3 separate regions of the Homo sapiens genome follow, and all the other regions are linked to region 2. The links come from fine-mapping of genetic effects on plasma protein levels. Region 2 holds a variant in brackets. A gene starts in each other region. All regions are shown on their forward strands.

Region 1 (4,326 bases), not on the chromosome of region 2:
GTTGGTCAGGCTGGTCTCAAACTCCTGACCTTGTGATCCACCCGCCTCGGCCTCCCAAAGCGCTGGAATTACAGGCGTGAGCCACCGCGCCCGGCCAAATAATTTCTTTTCTAAAAAAGAGCAGTCTGAAAAATCAGCCGGCAGACATAGAAAAGCAAGCTGGAAGCTTGCTCGGGTGAATGCCGGCAGCTGTGCCAATGGGAATAGGCTACCTGGGTGCCAGGCGTGTTCAACATGCAGGCTTGCTCCATGTTCCCTTTTCTTTATCAACCACGTGTACGGTAAAGGAACAGGCAACATGGTCCTGGCCAGGTAGAGACCCCATCTGCATAATAAAATATTAGGGTGGGCAGCCAGCTTCTTTGTACTCTATGTAAACGGCACACCTGGTCCAACTAATCTTTGGGCCCTTATGTAAATCAGATATCACCACCTAAAGCTCATCTATAAAACCCCGTGCATTTCACCATGAAACTGGAAGACCCACTTGGGAGCCCCCTCTCTTTGCAGGAGAGAGAGCTTTTCTCTTTCTCTCGCCTATTAAATTTCTTTTCTTTCTTTCTTTTTTTTTTTTTTTTTGAGATGGAGTCTTGCTCTGTCACCCAGGCTGGAGTTCAATGGCACAATCTCGGCTCACTGCAACCTCTGCTTCCCGGGTTCAAGCGATTCTCTTGCCTCAGCCTCCTGAGTAGCTGGAATTACAGGCATGAGCCACCACACCTGGCTAATTTTTGTATTTTTAGTAGAGATGGGGTTTCACTATGTTGCCCAGGCTGGTCTCAAACTCCTGATCTTAGGTGATCCACCCGTCTCAGCCTCCCAAAGTGCTGGGATTACAGGCATGAGCCACTGTGCTCGGCCTAAACCTCTGCTCTAAAAGTAATTTTTTGTGTGTCTGCATTTTATTTTATTTTATTTTATTTTATTTTATTTTATTTTATTTTATTTTATTTTAAGACAGAGTCCCACTCTGTTGCCTAGGCTGGAGTGCAGTGGCACGATCTCGGCTCACTGCAGCCTCCGCCTCCTGGGTTCAAGCAATTCTCTGCCTCAGCCTCCGGAGTAGCTGGGATTACAGGTGCCTAACACCATACCACACTGGCTGATTTTTTGTATTTTTAGTAAAGACGGGGTTTCCCCATCTTGGCCAGGCTGGTCTTGAACTCCTGACCTCGTAATCCACCCTCCTCAGTCTCCCAAAGTGCTGAGATTACAGGTGTGAGCCACGGTGCCCGGCCATGTCTGTATTTTCTATTTCCTTGGTGTGAGGCAATGAACCTCGGGTATTACCCCAGATGGATGACACTGCTTCAATATCTGCCAGTCACTACACTTTGTTATCAGTGGGATTACATCAACTGGAGCCCATTCTATCTGCTTGGAGGCCAGGCCTGAAGATTCAAGGGGTTGACACCCTCTAGGAGCAAGCCTCAAGTCAACCCATGACTGACAGTAGGTGGGATATAAATACCTCAGCTCCCTCACCCCTCGGTTGGAATAACTGAAGAGTATGTTCCATGCCGCTCCCCAGTCATCCCTGGGGAGGTTAAGTTCCACTTTCTCACCATGTAACTTATTTGAAGACACACCCAGTATTGGCTCTTTGCCTTTCCTGATTCACTTTCTCCTCCCCCAGCTGGTGCTTTCTGGGGCCACCTTCTTGATAAACTACTTTTGCTAGAATCCTTGTCTGAGGGTCTGCCCTTGTGAGACCCTAAGATGTTACCAGAGAGAGTTAGGAAGCTGGGAATGGGGTGGAAGTGTTGCTGTATAATCGTCAGACAGAGTTGAGATCTGAAGGAAAATAAGATGGTTAAAGCTCTTGACTCTGGAATCAGAGGGTCCTGGGTTCAAATCTCAAGTCTGAGAGATCTTGGACAAGTTATAACTCCTCTGCAAGTCTCAGTTTCCATTTTGTTGGTGAATAGAGGGAGGGAGGGGAATTCCTACTTTACAAGGTTAACATGATAATGAAATTACACTTTGTTGCCAATGTGCCTAGCACACTGCCTGGTACATGATGGTTGTGATGGCTGTCTTTATACGGGAGACTGGGAAGAGACCCTAAAGGCTGAGATTTGCTTCACTGGAGGCAGGAAGCGGAAGCTCCTTTATTGGGTGCAATGAAAGAAGGTGTTGAGAGATGGGAGATAGATGTTGATGGGAAAGAAAAAGGGAGAGACCATGGGAAGGAGAGAGAGAGAGAATGATATACATTAGGCAGATTAACTTCTCTTTATTGTGAAGAAAGGGGGAAATTAGGATTTTCTAGGCTGTCTTTTAGTTGCAGCAAGTCAGCAAAAAGGGCTATGATGACCAGGCAGCATTGAGCAACTCTGACTCCGCCTTCCCCTCTTCGCACACCTTCTGGTTACTGAAAACCCAGCGTTAGTAGAAAAGTTTCTTTTCTTTGAATGACAGAACTACAGCATAATGCGTGGCTTCAACCTGCTCCTCTTCTGGGGTGAGTGTGAGGCTGAATGGGGGGCTAGGGGAGGCCTGGATTGGAAATAGACTTCAGGAGAAATGGGAGGGCCATGGATGGTCCAGCCAAGAGATCATAAGTCCAGACTGGATGCTGCAAACACCTTCATTCAGGGAACCTTTGACAAAATTCCATAGCTCAGGGAAGTCCATCTGTTAGGATAGATTTTTCTCTATAGTCATTCATTTGACCTGAGCAAGTCCTGTGTGTCAGGTGCTGTTCTAGGCACTAGAGGATATAGCAGTGAGAAAAAAAGACTAAGTTCCTGCACTCTTGAGGCTGATATTCTAGTGGGTAGGAGCAGACAGGAAAGAAGGCACAGATGATCATAGCCCACTTAGCACTGCTGTAACTTCTTTAAACATAGAGTGTATCCAATTGTCACAACATTTCTATGACATTGGGTCATTATTAGTCCTATTTTGCAAATGAGAAAACTGAGGCAAAAGAGATAAAATAATTTTCCCAAGGCCACTTAGTCAATAAGGGGTAGAGGCAGGATTTCAAGCCAGACAGTCTGACTTCAGAGTCTGTAAGCTTTTCCACTATACTATGTTGCCCCAAAAAATAAGTAAACATAGGAATTTCAGGTAGTGATAAGTGCTATGAAAGAAGTTGTTATAGAATGTGGTCGGGAGTTATGTTGAAGGGAGAAGTCTGGGGTTGAGGAGGGGCAGTTCGAGCTGAGTCCTGAAGGATGAGATAGACCCTTCCTGTGCTCTTATTTCTCTTTCTTCAGGTGTCAGTTTGTCTCAGCCTTGTTTATCTTCTGTGTTTCTGGTTTTTCTTCTATGTCTTGTGTGTTTTGGTCATTGGATCAAATTTAAGAATGGAGGATATTGGGGACATATTCTAAGTAGCAAGTATGGGTTTCCTCTGCTGTTGAAGAGTGGATCTGAATACCCTATTTTACCAAGGAGGAAACTGAGGCACAAAGAGATTAAATAACTTCCTCAAGGCCACGCAATCATTAATTGGTGAAGCCAGATTTTTAAACCTAAGCACTTTGACTTCAGACTTTGTATGCCTAAACAGCATGCTGAATTACCTCTAAAATAATTAATGAATGAGTAGAAGAATTTTTGTTAGTAATAATAGATAGAATTTGGGAGTTTAGATCTGTGGGACTTGTTGACTGGCAGGCTACATTAGAAGAAATAGGTGGCCTGTGGACATCAAATGTAGGCATGCAGAGTTGTTATTTTGGGGTGTTGGCAATGGTATTAACCATTAACACTCCCTATTCTGCCCTGAAGATAATCAGCAAAGAGTTGTGATAATGATAGTGATGATAATGATCATGATGGTGGTGGTTATAATAGTGATGATGAAAATGGTGATGATGATGGTGATGGTGATGATGATGATGATGATAATGGTGATGATAGTGATAATGAAGATGATGGTGATGATGATGGTGTGATAATGACCATGAAGATGGTGATGATGGTGATGATGATAATGGTGATGATAGGGATAATGATGATGATGGTGGTGATGATGGTGTGATAATGACGATGAAGATGGTGATGTTGGTGATTATGGTGGTGATGATGATGATGGTGGTGATGGTGATAATGGTGATGGTGATGATGATAATGGTGATGATGGTGATAATAATGATGATGATGATGGTGATGATGAAGATGATGATGGTGATGATGATAGTGATAATGATGGCGATAATGATGATGGTGCAGGAGACCTAAATGCTGCAGGGCTGCATTGCCTTTAAACACTAAAAAATGGGCAGGGCGCAGTGGCTCACGCTTGTAATCCCAGCACTTTAGGAGGCTGAGGCAGGCAGATCATGAGGTCAGGAGATCGAGACCATCCTGGCC
Region 2 (4,000 bases):
GCTGTGGCCACAAGCCAAAAAATACATGCAGCCACCAGAAGCTGGAAGAGGCAAGGAACCGACTGTCCCTAGAGCCTCTGGAGGGAGCACGGCCCTGTCCTGCCTACCCCTTCGCTTCTACCCAGTGATACCAATTTCAGACATCTGGAGTCTGGAACTGTGAGAGAAGAGTTTTCTGTTGTTTTAAGCCACTAAGTATAGGTAATTATTAATGACAATTTGTTATAGCAGCAATAGGGAACCAATACAGAGTCTCACTGGGCTAATCCAGTGTCAGCAGGACTGTGTTCCTTTCAGGAGGCTCTTAGAATCTGTTTTCTTGACTCTTCCAGCTTCTAGAGTCTGTCCACATTCCTTCACTCATGGCTTCTTATGTCTTCAAGCCAGTCTTTGACACTTTTTAGATAGTGATTCTTCTGCTTCCCTCTTCCGCATTTAAGGACGCTGTGATTGCATTAGACCCACCTTGATAATTATCTTAAGGTCAGCTGATTAGCTACCTTAACTCCATCTGCATCCTTAATTGCCCTTTGCCATGTAAGGTGTAACATACTCAGATTCTGGGGCTATGACAGAGACATCTTTAGGAGCTGTTATTTTGCCTTAAAAAGGAGGCAATTATTTAAGTATATAAGGTGAATAGTTAGGTCTTTCTCTCCAGGAAACCTAACTTGTCATTCAGCGGTTACCATGCATGGGTATCTTCTTCCAATTGCCTGAGCCAGCCAGACTTTCATGTTTGAGCATTCAGATTGGGCTTTATTTCTCAAGGCATGTGGCAAACCTCACAATGACACTGAAAGGTTAAAAAAAAAAAAAAGAAAAATACAGTTGCTTACCAGAGATACTGATCGTTTACTTCTGCTAGGATCAGAAGAGATTTTAAGAGCTTAGTGGCAAATCCTGACCTTGGAAAGCCCTGCCTTACCAGGGGTCTTGTGCAGAGGTGTTATTGAGATCAGACACCAGGTTGCAGTGATATGTATCATTTGTGCTCTTGCCATCTACCGCCCCCTGCCTGCCACCAAGCCAACCTCAGGAGGTCTTTGCCCAGAGGCTTGGCAAGATGACTTTCCACAACTCAGGGAGGTTTTAAGGAGAGGGATTAGCATTGACTCTGATACCTTGTTGGTTTGTGTGTCATAACTTAAAGGTCCATGCTTCTCAGCTGGCCAGTGGTCACACCTGATTGGAAGGTGAAAAGACTTTGCGTTCTACTTCCAAAAGTTTTCACATTTGTCACACTGTCCTAACCCTATCAGCTTTGTTGCTATCATTGTAGTGAGGCCTGCCTAGGGATGATAAGTGAAGGATCCCCAAGGACACATTAAGACAGCACATAGAATCAGAGTTTTCAGACTCTTGGCCGAACTTTTTTTTTTTTTAAGCAGACCAGTATTTTCCAAACTTTGGACTTAGTTTCCACCATATTCACGTTACCACCTATACTTGTTACTTAACATATTTTCTTCAGTTTATCCTGCATCAACTCATTTATTTTAATTTGGTCTCATTCTAATTGACAGCATATAGCAGCTTATGAATTTGATGTGCGTATGCATGTTGCAACAAATACTTAACTATTAGTATGTATGCTACGGTGTAAATGTACCACACTCAGAAAAAACCTTATTAGACCATCCTGACTGTTTAGGAAGCTTGGTGCCCAAGGGAAATAGTCTTTGACCATCAGCCAGAATTTGGTTAGTTTCAGCAGATAAGAGAGTAGCTGGTAAGCTACTTAGGAACATTTTAAGTAGAATATGTGAGAAATGAGGATAGGATATGCCTTTATTCCCAGCAGGCAAAAACATGCATTTATTTACTATAGTTGTTATAATATAAATAACATAGATGCATATGTATACCAGAAACATGGTCTTTATCCCATTTGTGGATAAAAGCTAAGGAAGAACTTGTATTACTTATGTATGAAATGCCCAAGGGAACAGAGCCTAGACAAGTTCTGAAACTTAATATCTAGGGAATGTAAACATTTAATAAAACATTACCTTACCCACCTATGTGGCCTTTCTTGGCTGGACTTCTAAAAAATTTTGTTTTTATACCATATTCTTTGTTTTAGGAAAGCATTATCTTACTCCCAGCCTCTGGGGAAAATAAATAACCGAGAGAATCAATAAGGAGATGCCCCAGTGTTGTGGTCAGTGTCTGTTTTTCCCCAGTGTTCTGGGAGCAGGGTTTCCTGGTGTTCTGTTA[C/A]ATCAGCATGAAGGAGGCCTTGTGCATGGGAAGACCCAGACCTCACTTCCCCTGTGTCACTTGCAGTCACTTGTCTTCCTCTTTTGTTTTTGTGTATTTACCGGGGATGAGGAGGTGGATGGGCAGAGGGATTGTATATAGAACTGGCTTATTTTTTTTTTATTTTTTTTTTTTTTTTTATTTTTTTTTTTATTTTTTAATTATTATTATTATTATACTCTAAGTTTTAGGGTACATGTGCACATTGTGCAGGTTAGTTACATATGTATACATGTGCCATGCTGGTGCGCTGCACCCACTAACGTGTCATCTAGCATTAGGTATATCTCCCAATGCTATCCCTCCCCACTCCCCCGACCCCACCACAGTCCCCAGAGTGTGATATTCCCCTTCCTGTGTCCATGTGATCTCATTGTTCAATTCCCACCTATGAGTGAGAATATGTGGTGTTTGGTTTTTTGTTCTTGCGATAGTTTACTGAGAATGATGGTTTCCAATTTCATCCATGTCCCTACAAAGGACATGAACTCATCATTTTTTATGGCTGCATAGTATTCCATGGTGTATATGTGCCACATTTTCTTAATCCAGTCTATCATTGTTGGACATTTGGGTTGGTTCCAAGTCTTTGCTATTGTGAATAATGCCGCAATAAACATACGTGTGCATGTGTCTTTATAGCAGCATGATTTATAGTCATTTGGGTATATACCCAGTAATGGGATGGCTGGGTCAAATGGTATTTCTAGTTCTAGATCCCTGAGGAATCGCCACACTGACTTCCACAATGGTTGAACTAGTTTACAGTCCCACCAACAGTGTAAAAGTGTTCCTATTTCTCCACATCCTCTCCAGCACCTGTTGTTTCCTGACTTTTTAATGATTGCCATTCTAACTGGTGTGAGATGATATCTCATAGTGGTTTTGATTTGCATTTCTCTGATGGCCAGTGATGATGAGCATTTTTTCATGTGTTTTTTGGCTGCATAAATGTCTTCTTTTGAGAAGTGTCTGTTCATGTCCTTCGCCCACTTTTTGATGGGGTTGTTTGTTTTTTTCTTGTAAATTTGTTTGAGTTCATTGTAGATTCTGGATATTAGCCCTTTGTCAGATGAGTAGGTTGCGAAAATTTTCTCCCATGTTGTAGGTTGCCTGTTCACTCTGATGGTAGTTTCTTTTGCGGTGCAGAAGCTCTTTAGTTTAATTAGATCCCATTTGTCAATTTTGGCTTTTGTTGCCATTGCTTTTGGTGTTTTGGACATGAAGTCCTTGCCCACGCCTATGTCCTGAATGGTAATGCCTAGGTTTTCTTCTAGGGTTTTTATGGTTTTAGGTCTAACGTTTAAATCTTTAATCCATCTTGAATTGATTTTTGTATAAGGTGTAAGGAAGGGATCCAGTTTCAGCTTTCTACATATGGCTAGCCAGTTTTCCCAGCACCATTTATTAAATAGGGAATCCTTTCCCCATTGCTTGTTTTTCTCAGGTTTGTCAAAGATCAGATAGTTGTGGATATGCGGCATTATTTCTGAGGGCTCTGTTCTGTTCCATTGATCTATATCTCTGTTTTGGTACCAGTACCATGCTGTTTTGGTTACTGTAGCCTTGTAGTATAGTTTGAAGTCAGGTAGTGTGATGCCTCCAGCTTTGTTCTTTTGGCTTAGGATTGACTTGGCGATGCGGGCTCTTTTTTGGTTCCATATGAACTTTAAAGTAGTTTTTTCCAATTCTGTGAAGAAAGTCATTGGTAGCTTGATGGGGATGGCATTGAATCTGTAAA
Region 3 (4,000 bases), not on the chromosome of region 2:
TGGGATTACAGGCATGAGCCACCACGCCTGGCAGTTTATTTATTTTTCTGAGACAGGGTTTCCCTCTGTTCTCCATCCTGGAGTCCAGGATCATAACTCACTGCAGCCTCCAACTCCTGAGCTCAAGCAATCCTCCCATGTCAGCCTCCTGAGTAGCTGGGACCAAAGGTGTACACCACCATGCCTGGCTAACTCTTAAATTTTTTTTTGTAGAGACAAAGTTTCACTATGTTGCCCAGACTGGTCTTGAACTCCTGGCCTCAAGCAGTCCTTCCACCTGGGCCTCCCAAAGTGCTGGGTTTATAGGTGTAAGTCACCATGCCTGTCTTTCATCTCTATGTCCAATGACATATTCAGCCTTATCCAGGTTCTATCCCCAATGCATCTCCAGCTCAATCTCCAGCCTCATCTTGCACCCTGGCCCCAGCCTATCACAAGCTTCCCGCCCCACTCCACCAGCCCTCACTCACAGAGAGGCGGCGCCAGGCCTGGAAGGTCAGGGAAACATCAGGGAGCTGCTCTCCCAGGGGCAGGAGGTACAGGTTCACTCCTGGCAGGTGAGATTCCGCCTGGGGGGCAAGGTCTGTTAGTGGGGGCCAGAAGGGATTGGGGGTCTGCCCATCTCCAGCGCCAGCTGCATTAGGGGGACTTACAAAGCGGTGGGCCTGGCCCCGAACCTCGGAGAGCAGCTTCCTGGCGAGATGCAGGCTGACTGTGAACTCCCTCCGCAGCTCCTGCAGGCTCAGCTGGGGCCTCCCTGGGGGCCTTGGGAATCCCCAGACACCAGCTTGAACCAGGAGCAAGGGAAGCAGCAACAGGCTGAGCCCTGGAGAGATGGGAAGAGGGTGGCAAGACAGGGAGAGAGCTTGAGAAGGAAGGGAACATGCCTTTTCTGAGCCTGTGCTAGCTGTGAGCACGGTGCAGGCACTTTGACCAGCATCATTCCTCTGCCTCCTCAAAACCACAATGGAGGCTGGGTGCGGTGACTCACACCTGTAATCCCAACAATTTAGGAGACCGAGGCGGGCGGATCACCTGAGGCCAGGAGTTCAAGACCAGCCTGGCCAACATGGCGAAACCCTGTCTCTACTAAAAATACAAAAATTAGTTGGGCGTGGTGGTGCATGCCTGTAATCCCAGCTACTCAGGAGGTTGAGGCAGGAGAATCGCTTGAACCTGGGAGGCAGAGGCTGCAGTGAGCTAACACCACTGTGCTCCAGCCTGGGCGACAGAGCCAGACTCTGTCTCAAAAAAACAAAACAAAACAAAACAAAACAAAACCCCACGATGCAGCCAGCACGGCCCCCATATGGCATCTCCGCATGGTGTGCCCACTTTTGCAAAAAGACCAGAAGCCTGATCCTTTTTTTTTTTTTTTGAAACAGAGTTCTGTTCTATCACCCAGCCTGGAGTGTAGTGGTGTGATCACAGCTCACTGTAGCCTTGAACTCCTAGGCTCAAGTGATCCTCTCGCCTCAGCCTCCCAAGTAGCTGGGATCACAGGGACACACCACTGTGCCTAACTGTTTCTATTTTTTTGTAGAGACAGGGTCTCACTATGTTGCCCAGGCTGGTCTTGAACTCCTGGCCTCAAGAGATCTTCCCGCCTCAGCCTCCCAAATTGCTGGGATCACAGGCATGAGCCACTGTGCCGGGACAGAGACTGGATTTTGACCCCCATAAACTCCCTTGGCCAAATGCCTTTTTCAGTGAGCAACCTGCACAACCACGTGTGGCAGCCTCAGTGCTATTGTTCTCCCCAATTTGCAGGTGAGGCTCAGTGAGGTTGACTTGCCCAAGGTCAAATAGCCAGAAGGTGGGAAGCCAGGACTGGATTCCAGGTTTTTCCAAATGCAGAGCCCATGGGTTTTCCCCAGAGAATGCAGAGGGAGGCAGCCATCTGCCCCAGGAGTGGGCACACCATGTTCTGGCAAGGATTCTTTGGGCTCAGCCAAGCGGCTCTGATGGCTTGAACTGGCCATGAGGTCCCCAGGGATGGGCTGGCAATGCCAGAGGCTCTATTCCAGGGAGTCAAAAGGACAGGTTTGTCCAGTTTCCACCACGGCAGGTGGATCCTAGCAGGGTAACCTGCCTGGGGCGAATCCACAGTATGGGAGCTTTTTTTTTTTTAAGACAGATTCTCACTCTGTCACCCAGGCTGCAGTGCAGTGGCGCGATCTCGACTCACTGCAACCTTCACCTCCCAGGTTAAAGCAATTCTCCTGCCTCAGCCTCCTGAGTAGCCACCACGCCTGGCTAATTTTTATTATATTTAGTAGAGAGGGGTTTTGCCGTGTTGGCCAGGCTGGTCTCCAACTCCTGACCTCAGGTGATCCGCCTGCCTTGGCCTCCCAAAGTGCTGGGATTACAGACATCAGCCACTGCGCCCAGCCCAGAATGGCTGAATTCCGAGTGTGCTTCCTGACCTGTGTTTTCCTGGAAAGAGGGGCAGCGGATGGGCGCTCTAGGAAGAGGGCAGCATTCATCAATTTCCCCCTCAGGGAGAGGAAATCTAGCAAGCACAAGAGTTACACAATTCTCCTCGAAACACAAACCAAAACTGGCCCGAAGTCCATCCTGCTCTCCCTTCTCTCCCTGCCTCTTCCCTGTCCTCTCTCAATCTCTAACCCCTGGGCTCTGCTCTTCGAAATGTCCCCTGATAAAGGTGAAGGGGAGCTTCTAGGGACATCTACCTCCCTCGTGGGCTTGCAGATGTGGTGGGCGATGCCTAACGTAAGATCTCTGGCATTCAGACTCCCTGGTTTTGGGGCCACTCGGACCCTCTGACATCCTGGAGACTTAAGGCAGAGTGGGGTTCTTCCTAGCTCAATGTTGGGGACAGGGTGGGTGCCCCCAGGCCCTGGTGGATCAAGCCCAACCGTAAGTGAGCTGTGCCATCTCCAACCTGACCTCTGGAGACCCCAGACCCCCTCCTTACCCTCTGCAGCTGATCCTGGGTCATTGGCTCTGGCCTTTGAAGGCTCTGTCTCCATCCTCCAGCCTTTGGTCCCTACCTGCCCTACGTGGCATGTTACCTTCTCCACTGCCTACTGCTCTGGTTCTAGCCCCTGAGTTCTGCAGCCACCAGCCGCAGATTGGACCTCTTTCCAACATCAAACTAAAGACCTTTGACCCAGTGAGGCTGCTGACATCTTGGTCCCAGTGCTCCACTTGTGCCAGCACCTCGTTCTGCTCTTCCTCCAGCCGGCCCCATTCTCAGTCTTAGCCAAGCTGTTTGGCTTCTGCTTATTCACTCCAAACTCTTCATTTATCTGCCTAGACCTGGTCCTTGTCAAATTGCTGGTCCAACCCTCCCCATTCCCACTAGCCAAGGCCTCCTTCTCATCCTCTGCCCAGCCCTGGGTCAGACCACCACCCCACTGCCCCAGGCCCCCACCCAGTCATGCCAGCCTCCCTTCCCATGCAGCAGCCAGCCGAATCCTCAGTCTTGGCCAAGTTGCTGCTCTCAGCTCTCGACCCCCCATCTGCACCAGCCAAGCTCGTCCATTCTCTGCCCAAACTCAACCAAGCCCCCCACCCCTGGCTTCAAACTCACGCCAGCCAAGGTCGCCTGCCGTCTGGCCCATGGCGGGGCCCAGCCTCTTTGGTCAGCCATCTCCTGGGTAGGGGGGGTCTTATACTGGGGGCTGTGCCCGGTTTCACTTTCCGTCCTGCTTGTACTTTCAGCTTTGTGTTCACTCATTCTTCCCTCTCGCCACCCCTTGCTAAAATGGGGAAATGTAATTTCCCTTCCCGGAGGGGGTGGGAGGTATGATGGGGGGTGACGGGAAGCTGGGGTTTCGGGACATCCAAGCTCCAGACTCACTGCTAAGCTCCCACGTCCAGCCCTGTCCTCAATGTCCCATGCTTGGGTGAGCCATCCAGCCCTATTCACTGGTTGATCCCAGAGTCCCAAACCCCCTCCTGATTCTCGGCTCTGCCACCATCATCCTAGGGTCTACTGTCCTTCCAAAGATGGATAGCCAGGTAAGGGGATTGC

Alleles and levels. Alleles are on the strand shown, and positions count from the first base shown. The strength of an association depends on the size of the effect and on how common the allele is.
For the plasma level of the protein whose gene starts at base 2,404 in region 1, allele C in region 2 goes with a higher level than allele A (moderate association).
For the plasma level of the protein whose gene starts at base 3,610 in region 3, allele C in region 2 goes with a higher level than allele A (moderate association).

The links. PIP is the chance, under the fine-mapping model, that this variant and not a neighbour inherited with it causes the effect. The UK Biobank Pharma Proteomics Project read protein levels with antibody pairs (Olink). The fine-mapping took linkage between variants from a reference panel, not from the people measured, so its PIPs are less certain.
Region 1: it holds the start of ADGRE1, and the variant in region 2 is fine-mapped to the plasma level of the ADGRE1 protein (UK Biobank, PIP above 0.99).
Region 3: it holds the start of IL27, and the variant in region 2 is fine-mapped to the plasma level of the IL27 protein (UK Biobank, PIP above 0.99).

The regions. Positions count from the first base shown.
Region 1 is chr19:6,885,176-6,889,501 of GRCh38, forward strand. ADGRE1 (adhesion G protein-coupled receptor E1) reads left to right here and starts at 2,404. Exons shown (of 21, transcript NM_001974.5): 1 at 2,404-2,464. The coding sequence starts at 2,434. RefSeq lists an enhancer at 2,398-2,457.
Region 2 is chr2:134,206,771-134,210,770 of GRCh38, forward strand. It overlaps a transcript of MGAT5 not described here. Among named protein-coding and RNA genes, the nearest start is that of MGAT5, 45 kb to the right of the region's middle. RefSeq lists a silencer at 1-142. The variant C/A (reference allele first, on the strand shown) is at 2,221.
Region 3 is chr16:28,503,225-28,507,224 of GRCh38, forward strand. It overlaps IL27 (interleukin 27), which reads right to left and starts at 3,610. Exons shown (of 5, transcript NM_145659.3): 1 at 3,557-3,610; 2 at 654-826; 3 at 471-569. The coding sequence starts at 3,587.